Regions from separate parts of the Homo sapiens genome. Here region 2 is linked to region 1. The links come from fine-mapping of genetic effects on gene expression. Tissue or cell type: tibial artery. Region 1 holds a variant in brackets; the other region holds the start of a gene. All regions are shown on one strand. Distances are from middle to middle.

The links. PIP is the estimated chance that this variant, and not a neighbour inherited with it, causes the effect.
Region 2: VPS50 starts here. The variant in region 1 is fine-mapped to the expression of VPS50 in tibial artery (GTEx, PIP above 0.99).

What each region holds. Positions count from the first base shown.
Region 1 is chr7:93,354,725-93,357,415 of GRCh38, reverse strand. VPS50 (VPS50 subunit of EARP/GARPII complex) reads right to left here. Exons shown (of 28, transcript NM_017667.4): 27 at 1,336-1,525. Among named protein-coding and RNA genes, the nearest start is that of VPS50, 120 kb to the right of the region's middle. The variant A/G (reference allele first, on the strand shown) is at 1,476.
Region 2 is chr7:93,230,769-93,233,459 of GRCh38, reverse strand. It overlaps VPS50 (VPS50 subunit of EARP/GARPII complex), which reads right to left and starts at 1,094. Exons shown (of 28, transcript NM_017667.4): 1 at 960-1,094. The coding sequence starts at 992. It also overlaps a transcript of HEPACAM2 not described here. RefSeq lists enhancers at 574-633, 874-923, 1,014-1,183, 1,324-1,393.

The DNA.
Region 1 (2,691 bases):
TGTGGGAAGTTTCCTTCAAAGACAGAAAAGAGTCCCTGCTGCTGCTGGGGAAATGTCACTGAATTACAAATATCAATCAGTTAAAGCTCTTTCAAAGTACTAAGTTAAAAAAAAATCAGTCTACTATATTAAAAGAGGAAATTCAAAAAACGGGCATCATTCTTGCATCGAATAGAGCTGTGCCTTTCCTCCTTGGCTACTTTGTATTCTTTCCCAAAACCCTTTCCTCAGTACCAACCCAGAAGTGTTTACAGCTTACTTTACTAAATGGATTCTAGCAACATTAAGCAGTCTATCTGCATCTAGGTTTAACATTTTGGTTATCAAATGTCAGTGGGGCTAAACGTGGTGAAGTTTTTCTCAATCTGGCTTTACTGGTCGAACTCATTAAAAATAACACATACATTCCTACTTTGCTTCTAAAGATCCGAAACTGAGTAAGAGTGGGGACATTCACACAAGATTCACGCCAATGTGAATGTTCTAGGCTAATGCATTTTATCTCTTTACAGTGTTAAGGCCAGAAAGGATGAGTCTGAGCAGGTATATACAAATAATTATTTTCTTACCCAAATGAAATAAAACTTGACTTAGCTTTTACCCATGACATTCATAGGTTAAGAAAATGTAAATCCTAGAGTTATCAAAGCAATGAGGATTTGGTGATAATTTTAACACATGCCATATACAGAAAAGCTTCCCATACCAAGCTCACTGAGTTGAACTGTGTCAAAAATTCGGCATCCTACGTAACAATAGTATTTTTCGTTATCTATATAGTCATACAAAAGAAAAATAATCAAATCTATATTAAAGGTAAAATCTAATGTAAGATGTAAGTTAAGTTTAGCCATTTAAATATTAATGTCTTCACTCATCACTAATACGTGTCAGTGTGTAGGATGTTACCATTTCATCGTTGAGGAGTACGAGAAGGTTTGTATGAGAAGGTTTAAGTTACATAATCGATTATGGCTTATGAATCATTTCATTGTTTCTGTATTCAATCTGTCTCAGTATTTATCAACTTCAGCCTTTTCCTATAACACAGTTGCAGGAAAAATATAGCTAATGTCTTGGCTTTGGCTGTATTTCTAGATCATTACAGTAACAGTTCACAAAGGGCTGAAAAAGATTTGATGAGTCAAAGGGCACTGCTTAGATACGGTGCCCTTAATCTGAATAAGGCAAAGAATTGACCTAAGTAGTTTGTATTAAAAAAGCAAATGTTTCTTTATATTTCACTCTCATGATTTTGAATTAAATAACACACCCAACAAGAACAGCACAAAGAAAAAGGAATAAAAACTTAATTAACTATTTTCCAGCTCTCACCCTGTGCTCTTTGATCCACCGTTCCATGTCATTCTCAGTTAGGTAATAAGCTTTAATATAAGTTTCTACAAATTCTTTATCAGGAATGGGTCTAATATCTGTTAGTTTTTCAAGTTTCATTAAAAACTGTTGAAAATCCA[A/G]TTGCATCAGGGCACGACCCTCATTACTGCATTTCTTGACATTGGCATATCTAAGATGCAAAACAATAAAAAAAAATACATTATAGGATAATTAGAAACAAAAAACTGTCAGGTATTTGAAGTTTTCTCTAACCTATATTTGGACAGATTCCCCAGAAATGAGAGGGTTATAGGAAATAGAGAACATAAGCCTTGAGTCAGAAAGACTGGGTTGTGTTTGTGCTCTGTCATTTTACCTATGCGGGCCTCAGTTTTCTCATTTGCAAAGAGATCCAATGAGTTCAAGTCTCTTTGTTGTTCTACAGACCACGGATCTCTGTATTCAATCAACATAATTGTCTGTAAGAAAGTTAAACTGGTATTCCAGTTAATCTGGCTGCCAAGAGTTACTTTATAAAAACTAAGCTTTGAATACTTCAAAGTAATCTTAGTTTTATAAAACTGTTCAATATTCAATGCAATGCAAAAGAAACAAATGAAATAATTCTCCCATGAACACTCTGAAAACATAAAGAAATGTGTAAGCATGTAAGCATAGAAAGTATATATATATTTTTCATGATAAAAAGCTTATAGACCTATTCTGATATTCTACACTACTGAAACAGTGTGTTTTAAGGTGGACTAAGTAATAAAGACAAATATACAAACCCTAACAATACAACACTTTATTGCTCATTAAGTCAATGTTTCATTTCTTCAATCAATCATACAGAACATGGAAAATTCAACTGTGGGAATGAGGTACTTACCTTAAGGAAAGTTGCAAGAAAATAAAAGCTTATTTTATTTAAAATGACCAAGCTTTTTTTTTTTTTTTTAAAAAAGAGTATTTTATACAGAAGTATTACATATATTATTCACATTTCGACTTAAACAAATTTATTTAAAATACTCTTCATTCGTGATTGCTGACACAGCCTTTTTATAATTTATAGCACTGCTGGTTTCAATACAGAGTGCCACGACTGTTGTCAGCTTGTCACTGTCATCTTCCCACTTTCTAATACATTATTTTGTATAACAAATGAGAACAAAAGAAAAATCAGACAAATGATAGTGTGAATATTCAACTGATGTGCAATTCTAGAGCACTGTACAGGGTCTTTGAAATAGCTGTTCGCTTCTCAGGGATATTTCAGATGTATTACTGATCCTTATTTGTATCCTAGATGTTATGGGCAGAGTAAGCATGGTCTCTGAGTAAGTGGGAAAA
Region 2 (2,691 bases), 120 kb after region 1:
GTTATTTTTGTAATCAACAAGAAAAAAACTCACAAATATACCTTTCACTAAACGATTACCTTCCACATTCTCCAAACTTCTAAAAGCCATGTTGATTTAAAACTCTAATCTTAACTATCTTTCATATTAAAATAATAAAATGACCAATTCTAGTGAAATATTAAAGCTGAAGTAAATAAAGGCAGCTAAAACAAAGTCATAATCAATAAGTACATAAAAGAAAATTTCTGCACTTCTTAAATGAAGCTGAGGCATTATTACGAGGTCCCTAACATTTATGAGACAGGTTACAAAATAGCCAAAGCTCTTATTCATGAATTTCCATTCTGGGGAAAAAAAAGAAAAGATCAGTATTTTGCCATGACAAAAATAAATTTTTTAAAGCAGAATTTCACAAAGAGTTTTCACATATATTAGCTTATCGATGACCCTCATAACAGAACTGTGAAGTAAAATGAACAAAAATAATTATTTTCACATCCAGAAACGTAAGCTACAAAGTTTGGGGACTTGCCCAAAATCCAAAAGCTACTAATTCTGTCTTCAAATCATCCGTTTTCAGTCTTTCCAGGTCACCTCTACTGCACAGACCACACCACCCTACCCAGGCTATCAGCTCGCATATGACAGACAGCCTGGATGCGGAAGACCTTGCAAGGAAGCTCGGGCTGTTCTGGAAAGACGGCAAAAAGAGGAGGAGGGGAGACAAAGATACCCTGATTCCTTCAATGACTTATTTTTAAACGAATATTTCTGGGAGGCTGGTACCCGCTGGAGCAGTGCTCCAACCCAGGCGGCCCAGGTGAGTTTTCTAGGGTATGCCCCGGCTTCCCAGTCCCCCTGACACCTGCCACCACCCATAACTTAGATCCCCGCCCGCCACTGGTTGGGGACAGAACATCTCGGCTCCTCTCACTTCCGAGATGAAGGAAGCCTTTGCTTCAGCCGCCGCGACTTACCTGTCGGGTCATGAGAGATTTGATTTTTTGCATATCGAAATCCTGAGGAGGGTACCCTGCCTCAAAGAGCTAACAAATCACACCGAGCCACTACACAGCTGGCCCTGACACTAGGAAGCCATAGTGGGTGGTCACGTGGAGGAGCCGACCCAGGGTATCCTGTCTTTCCCTGGGCCTGCTGGGAACTGTAGTCTTCTGGACGCCGGCGGTAGCAACGATGAACTAAAGTGGCCAACCCAGGGACTACATCTCCCAGCAAGCAAAAGAGCGGGTGCTTCAGTTAAGCCGGTAAATATTACTGCTCAGAGCGACCACTGCGATCGCCGGTCTTACAAAGGTGCTTGCACTAGGCAGTAGCTACTCTTCGGCGAGACGGAAACCTAAGTCACAGGTGACTAGGCGTTGAGCGAAAGATCAAACTCAGAGGAGACAATATATAAGCCAGATTGACGCGATGTCCCCTAGGAGTGTGAGGGAGGAAACCTCACCTGGTCTAGAGGGGCGGGGTGGGAGAACGAGAGACTGACGCGAAGGAGAAGGAACTCAAGAAAGGGCTGTCACTGAGGGGTAACCTGAGAACTCGAGACTACCCCGGGCGCGCTGGGTTTGGCCTGAGGAAAGGTGTGCTCTAGGTTGCCCAATAGGCGGCCCTCCAGGTTTAGGGCTGTTCTACCTCAGTCTTGGTATCCCCTGCAAAAGCTCTAAAATCGAAGGATTTTGACGCCCGCCTATTATTTTACCTCCGTACTCTAAAGCAGTGATGACGGGAAATACGACAATAACGAGTATACCTGTCACTTTAAAGTCCTCTTTTCAACTTTTGGCAGTTTAGTTAAATTGGGGAAAGGAACAGAAGTGTCTTTGGGGACACAATTTTAAAAGGACTTTACAATTATGAGAATATGAGAAGAAGAAGAAAAAGCAGCCCTAAAGCTAACAATGATAGCTAACACTTATCGAAAGCCGAGTACCTGTCAGGAACTGCTAATAGCTTTAAATATATGATTTCATTTATCCACACAAGAATCCTGTGGGTTCCCATTTTAAAGATGACGAAGCAGGTATGGCGAAATTAAGGAACTTGCCTAAGATTACTGCAGATGTGCAAGTAGAAACTGAAGGATTAATCGGTCATCAGATGTGTTAAGATTTTCATGTATTGTGCTGAAGAAAGTTCTAAAGCATGGCACCAATTTTTTTAAGTTTATTTTATTATAATGTTAACTTCTAAAAGTATGACACAGACCCATAATTTCAAAAATATTTCTTAGAATAAAAAAAGTTCAAGTGTGTCAACGTAATAAAAAATACTAGGTAAACAATAGTATGGGTGGTAGTCAGATATGGCAAAACTAATAAAGGTGATTTGCAAATGACTGAAGTTTGGGGGACACTAACAGAGGTTATTTCTGATTCTGAAATTCTATTTTCTCACCCCTTAGAGCCTCGTTTTATTAATTTTTACAAATGAGGTTGTAATATTTTAATATTTTATATAGGGCTTTGTAAGGATAAGTGAGATGATGTAGGTGAATGAAATGTATAAATTGTAAAGCACTATACAATTATGAGGTATTATTGGTTTTGATTCTGCCCAGTTCTCTACTCCAACAGAACCACCTTGTGCATACTTGTATCATCACTGCGTTCAGCAATTCCTTTGAAATTATATGTTTACCTATATGCTTCTCTGACTCTGTTATTTCTAACCCCTTCAAGAAATTCTGGTCAC